Regions from separate parts of the Homo sapiens genome. Here region 1 is reported to be linked to region 2. The links are microRNA targets in miRTarBase. Many come from high-throughput screens and were not tested one by one. Region 2 holds a microRNA gene; the other region holds the end of a gene's coding sequence.

The links. The annotated mature microRNA hsa-miR-1915-5p reads ACCUUGCCUUGCUGCCCGGGCC and lies in region 2 at 2,328-2,349, opposite strand. An mRNA with a match to its seed (bases 2 to 7 or 8) in the 3' UTR can be bound and repressed. Matches are read on the target gene's strand: a 7mer-m8 pairs with bases 2 to 8, a 7mer-A1 pairs with bases 2 to 7 and ends in A, and an 8mer does both.
Region 1: miRTarBase lists MACROD2 as a target of hsa-miR-1915-5p. The part of its 3' UTR that is shown has no 7-base or 8-base seed match.

What each region holds. Positions count from the first base shown.
Region 1 is chr20:16,049,113-16,052,509 of GRCh38, reverse strand. It overlaps MACROD2 (mono-ADP ribosylhydrolase 2), which reads right to left. Exons shown (of 18, transcript NM_001351661.2): 18 at 1-2,680. The coding sequence ends at 2,634. Among named protein-coding and RNA genes, the nearest start is that of KIF16B, 520 kb to the left of the region's middle.
Region 2 is chr10:21,494,282-21,497,678 of GRCh38, forward strand. It overlaps MIR1915 (microRNA 1915), which reads right to left and starts at 2,360; the gene lies at 2,281-2,360. It overlaps MIR1915HG (MIR1915 host gene), which reads right to left and starts at 2,979. Exons shown (of 2, transcript NR_160800.1): 1 at 2,469-2,979; 2 at 1-1,664. RefSeq lists an enhancer at 242-1,035 and silencers at 547-646, 1,460-1,899, 1,950-1,999, 2,210-2,459.

The DNA of each region.
Region 1 (3,397 bases), not on the chromosome of region 2:
AAGGCCTACTTTGATCCTCTGTATGCAAACATGACTAACATAGGGCTATTTTCCTCCCTCCCTCCTGTAACTCTTCATGCCACATAGCTGTATTGGAGTTTGGTTGGAAATTGACATCCAGAATTTATGTGCGGGAAAATCAATCAGCTTTTCAAATCTATTTCATTGTACAGCCTGTGCAATGGCAGCACCAGCAAATAAAGGTTTTCTGTGTTCAGGTGTCTTTGATCTGGCTATAGTTAGATTGTTAATATTTCACTATTGAATTGGAAATTAACTTTATCATTTGTTTTAAAGCATAAAACTGTATAGCCAAATAACAACCAAAAAGCATGACAAAGCAAAAATGAAAACACAATCTAATTATAGATGGAAGAATAAACAAATTCAGGAGTCGGGCTGAAGATATTTATTCCTCATTCTCTTAGTTTCCTGGATACAAAGATTACTTTCATTCTTCTAGAATTTTTAGGCAGAGAGAATTCCCTCCTTCCACTTCTAGCCCACCCACATTTGAAATAAATGAATAAAATGACTGTCATTGATGATAAGGAGAATGCCAGGGCTGGATAATTTCCATCCTGGCTGTTTCTAGCAAGGACATTAGGTCTCTTCCATCATTGTTCATTAGAAAATCTCTGTCCCTCTGTTTCCCTCATGTTTTTTTCAACTGTAACTCATTACTGAGGCTAAGTAGCACTAACATTTGGGAGTCACAAGAAAAACGAGCTTCTAGCAGATTGCACTTGTCAAATACTTCACAAGAATGACGGCAACTTTCAATTGAGTTATAAAGATGGCATGAAATGTAGAAACTGTCAATATTTGGATGACATCGTTTCTTGGATTCTTTAAAATGAGCCTTTTCGTTACTTTTCTGAAAAGCAACAACATCTAACGGCAATAGAGGATATAGATGCTTCCATATCAAACTGGAATAGCAACAGAAGGCCATAATCCCACATTATGAGGTCACGTAAATGTCATTCTTGCTGATGTCTTGATTTTATTAAAAAAAATTTGTTAGAATATAGTGCATATGCTGAAGTATAGCTTGTTAACTATTCCAGTATATCAAATAAGCCATCCAGAAGGGGTAACAAATTCAGAAAGGCTAAAACCAAAGTCATAGGAAGATAAGATGAATTTTCCATCAAAAAAGTGCAAAACTGAAGATTTTGATGGGATATTTAGAAAGCAGAACATCCTTTTATTTTAGAAATAATAATCCACTATTTTTCTCCCTCTGTTAAGGAAAAACAATATAAGTAAGTTTTAGTTCTAAAGCCCTTACAAGGAAGATGGATTTAAGAAGATATGCAACAAACGATATGTTTCCACTGAAAACAATGACATGACTTTGGAACCCGGGGAGGCTGTGGGAAGTAGGCATCTGGCCTTATACTGGCTCTAGGATAGATATTGGTGATGATGCCTGGCATCCTCATGGTCGCCATCCCTTGTGCCCACTATACCACTGGCATCTTGGGTTTTTAGTACTGCTGCCCCCCTTCAGAGCTGTATCCTCCCCTTCAGGGTTTTCTGGGTGAGGGGACCAACCATTGAATCAGCCTTGAACTTGGCATAAACAAGTGACAGCATTTAAACACAGGCCAGGAAGGCAGAACTGCAAGCAAAAGCTCTAATTTCCTGTAATTTCAAATGAGACCACTCTGTGGGCTGTCAAGCCTTGGGTGAAGACAGGATATTCTTTTATGGAAAACTCACAGCAATTTCAGGAGGAGCTTTTGATATTCATAGGCATATGTTTGGGTCCTAAATGCACTGCCCCTTTTCTTAGCTTTTAACTGTAACACCTAGCAAAGGGCCATCCTTTACAGTTATGCAGCAGAGAGTCACCTCTTGCTGGTAGTCTCCATGTGAAGACCTCATGAACCAAGTAAGCTCTGCTGAAAGTCAGTGTCAAAGAAGGATGCACCTGCCACCATGGTTAGGAAGGAAGAGACCCAGATGGCTGCCAGGGCCCACCCTTCTGTTATGCCTCTGCACTCTGCTCTGGAAAAAATTCAGCTTCCATATTTCTCATTAGCCACTTGGAACAAATTGTGCCTTGGGAACCCTGAAGAAAATATTTTCACCTCATTGTCCAGACCTTTTCCAAGTGGTTTCCGAGGCTTTTGCCCATTTTCTATCCTGCCTCCTCTGTCTGGGGATTATACTGCTGCTGGGCTCATTGATTCCTAAAATTTATCCTGCAGCTTATCAAACCACTGTCTTCCTCCCCTTCCTTTGAATAAACCACTGTGTGACCAGCTTTGTGAAATAACCAAGAAAGCAGACAGGGGCCAGGATACACATGTGAGTGTTCAATCAAGCCACTGTGACCCTGGGGCAAAGTTGTAAGAGAAAAGACAGAAATTACAAGGATAATGCCTGAAAGATGCGTCAACATGGGTCCCTCCACCAAATTAAAGGAAACTTTTTTTTTCTTTTTTTTCTTTCTTTTTCTGCAGATAAACGGAACAAAATGCAGCTGGAGAAATTAGAGTAAAGGATTCCCCGTCCTTCCATGGGACTTGCCTTCCCCCCACCCCCACCCTCCTCCACAGCGTGTGCTGCTATCTTCCCGAGCTCCCCCAGAGCCAGGAGAGGCCTTGCGATGCTGAGGATTGTCATTTAGTTCCATTTCTTTGTTCCTTCGCTTCATCTTGTGCCCCTGCTGAAGACAAAGAGAAGCCATTTGTTAGATTAAAGATAAGACATCTTCACAGGCTTAGCAAGGAATACATTTTTAATACAGCCATTTAAATGTCTCTCACCCCTCACATAGGCCCAGAAATATCTTATTTGACTATCAAAGAGCTTTAGATGTCTGAACTGTAATTGCTGGCACATGGTATCTTTAAAGAGCATATAAATCACTGTTAATAAATGTATGCCACATTGACAACGAGCTTTGGCTGATGGGGACGATTAACTCAATTCTTCAAAGTATTCGTTGAAAACTGTAACCCTGAGTTGATGTGGCTTCCCTTTTCAGGCCCATGCTCACACTCTAGTTTCCAGGGATCAGCATATAAATAATAACAATTTTCATAATGCTGCTTTGCAAAAGTCATTGATGGTTATGCCACCACTTCAGATTGTACTTATTAAATTATCTGCCTTATTCACTACCCATGAGAGGACACTAAGAAGACACTGTGCCTTGCAAAAACCTATACTCTTTATTTTTTTTAGATTTTTAAAATTGAGGTATAATCTGCCTACAGGAAAACACACAGATCTTAAGCATACATTTCAATCTGTTTTGAAAAATGCATACATTAAACCCACACCACCAAGAAGATATACATGACATCACCCTGGAAAGTTCCCTTCCCTACTACCCCACTCCTGCTGGAATGAACAAATGATCTGATTTCTATCTCCATAA
Region 2 (3,397 bases):
AAGCGCGGACCCCTTGCAAGCAGCATATAGCCTCGGCGTGACCCGTGGAGAGGCGGGACCCCAGTGGAGAGAGAAGCACGGAGAAGCCTGGGAAGGAGCTTGGTAAGAGGGGCACAGTCCAGGCTGCCCCATGCGCGCTGGGGTTGTCGCCGCGCCTCCTGCGCGCCCCAGTGCCCCCAGAATCTCCAAGAAAGCAATCGTGAGCGCGGATCAGTTTCTGTCTTTCCCAGAAAGCGGGCTTTTTATTGAGGGGAAACTTAGCTGGGAAAAGTCAGCTCGTACGTTTGTTTTGGTTTTTCGTCTATTTGCTTCCCAATTTAAAAGTGGCCGCCTAGGCGACAGGCCTGCGGTTTTCACAGTGTAAAACGGATCAGAGGGAAAGCTCCAGCCCCTCTCGACTTTCGCTTGCGGTTTGCAACCCCTGGGGTGGGTCTGACCCCGCGCGGCACTTGCCCAGGCGAGCTTCCCTCGTCGCGGCCCGACCCGCGCGCGGACTCGGCTTCCCCAGGTCAGGACCCACTAGGTGGGCCGCTCGGCCCCAAGCCTGGCAGGGCGGAGCCTAGGCCGCGCGCCCCGGGGTTGGAGGTTCCCACGGAGCCGGGAAACTGCGCGCCCCAGGTCCGCAGGCCGCCTCCCTTCCCTCGCGCCCTCGCACCCGCCCTCTGCTCTGCCGCTCCCGGTCCTGGGTGTGCGGGAGTCCCGGGGGTCCCTCTCCTGGACGCAGAGGAGGAATTTGGAGCAAAAGGAAGGGAATTTACTGCGGATGGCACCGGAACCTGAATTGACTTGTGCGTTTCCTGCTCTGGGCACGTAGGTTTCCCCTAGGAATCTGGAGTTCGCTGAGGACACTTAATTCCAAGAGATGATGGGTTCACATAAACATACCATTTAGTTAAGAAAAATATTTAAAATAAAGAAAAAAGAAAAACTGAACTTCGATCTTCTTCTCCACGTTCCCTGGTGTCACCAAATAAACAAAGCATTCGGACGAGAGTGGGCTGCTGGGGGCTCGGGAGGTGCGCGAGACAAGGTTACCCTGCGGGTCCGCCACTGCCCCCGGCCTCCAGCACTGCACTGCCCACGAGTTTGCGGGGTGTGAGCGCCGAAGGAGAACCCCGGACCGCCCAGTCTCAGCCTAAAAACTTGGATCCAAGAGTCCTACGGTTGTGGATGTGCCAGTCCTCCGCGACCCTTTCCTGCTGGCCTTCTGCTTTTTATAAACGAAAATAAAAGTTTGATTTAGGCTTAAAGAAATGTCATTCTGGTCGTTCCTCCCTGAAGCGGGACTTACTCAACCTCATATACTCGCCCGGAATTTTCAATCTCGCCTGTCGAAATCGCTAGCTGCGCATCCGCGGAAGAAGTCCTGGATGAGAGGTAGGGTGAAGGGATCAAGCAGATAGCAGCAGGCATCAGCACACTCCGGCCGTTCCGGACGGTCAGGCCCGCCGCTACAGGGAGAAGTGCGGCGGATGGAGCCAGGGCTGCGGGTTGCGCGCGGGCTGGGAACCCGGTGGTGCCACCTTAAGAGTCGGGTCCGCGCAGCGGCTGCGGAGGCGCCCGGCACCTGCAGGGGGCGCTGCTGCCCCGTGGTTTCTCCCGCGCCGCCGCGTGCAGCGGGCCTGGCAGCTCCGGGGCCCCGGTCCCCGGAGGGGGTGGGGACGCTGGGGGAGGAAGGGAGCGAAGTGCAGCCGTTAGGTAACGAACCCGAACCCTCCCGGATTCAGAAGCGGCCTCAGTGAGGCGTTTGCTGGAGGGAGCTTTCCATCATTCGGCCGCGAGAGGAAACGTGGGGAGGCGCCCTCCCCTGCCCCCACCGCCTGCCTTCCTGCCTCCCTCCACCTCCGCTCCCCGACCCCGACCGTGCTTCCCAGACCCTTTGTTCTCGAGGTTGGGAACGGCTGGGTGGGGGTTCCCCGGGGAAGAGGTCCCCCGCGCCGCTCGGAGGGGAAGGGACTGTCGCCTGCCCCGCACCCCAGCCCTCCCCAGTGCCGTCCCCCTTTCCCCCGGCCCCTTCCATCGCGTCCACGCGCTTCCGTTCTCACTCGGACTCCCCCAACTCCCGAGCTCCGGCTCCCCAGCCTGCACGGTCTGCAAGCCCGCCTCCCTTCCCACTTCCCCGCCACCTCTGAGGTCCCCGGGAAGAGGGGAGGAGAGGGAGACGTGTGGGGGAGGAGAAACCACAGAGCCTTCTCGGCGCGGAGCATTCCCAGGGACCCTTCCAGGCCCCGACCCCTGGGACCCGCTGCAGAGGCAGGGCTTTCCCGGCGCCGCCGCAGGTCGCTAGGGCCGCCCCCGCCGCGTCGCCCTGGGGCCCACGGGTGCACGGCCCGGGCAGCAAGGCAAGGTGCGGCCTCTCAGCGCCAGGACCCGAGACCCCCAGCTGGAGAGAAGGGGACACCGTGGTCCGCGCCCTGGGGAGGCTAATTGCACACGAACGCCCCCCTCTTCCCCGCCCCCCACCGTACCCTCTGCAGCGCCACCCGCGTCGCCTCTCCGCCGTGCGCCACCCTGAGGGCTCCCGCGATTGCATCTTCTTGAGCACAGTTACCAATGCGTTCAGCTTCGTTTCTTACTCGGATGGAGACATCGCGGAGGGAAGCGAGGGGACAGGGATGCGGTAGTAGGGGAAAGGTGGGGCGGGAAACCGAGCAGAGAGGTGGGAGACTTGGCTGAGGCAATGGCACCAGGCAGGGCCGCCCGGAGTCCCGAGTCCAGGTCCGCGAGGCAGGCCCCGGTGCAGCCGCGCCCCGGCCGAACCCTACATGTCCTCTGTACTGTGGACACGAGTCCGCGGAGCGCCAGTCACACCCCCGCACCCCTGCAAGCTCCCGCCGTAGAGGGGGCTCGGCACCATCCTGGTCACAAAGTACGTGCCCCCACCCCCCACCCCCAGGTGAAGAGGACGCAGCCCGGCGCCGTCAGCTCCAGGCTGCCTGGAGCCCCCTCCGGCCTCTCGGCGCGACCCTGGTCCTCAATGGCTCGTCGCGAGCTGCGCTAGCTGCTCTCTCGGCAGCGGGTTCCCCAGGACACACCCAGTCCCCACCCCCCGAGAGCTGGCGGCCAGCTCAGGATGCCAGGCGGCCAGGCGGGCGCCCTGCCAAATTCCGCGTTCCTCTCCAGGAGACGGGGAGTTGCGTCCCAGGCTCGGGAAAGCCCGCAGTTCGGGCTTGGGACTCGCTTACAAAGCCCCCCAAGGCGCCAGGGACGCCTCTGCAGGTTGAATTCCTGCTCCGTATCACTTCAATTTTAATTAATCTTTTAAAACACCGCTGTCACGTCGCTTGCAGAAAATTAATCAAACTTGAATCCTTGTTGCATAGCAAGAATTTCGATCCGAGTCTTTTAAAAAGGACTTGACTTTGCAAAGTCACGTCTTTTACAGTTCCCTCATTCC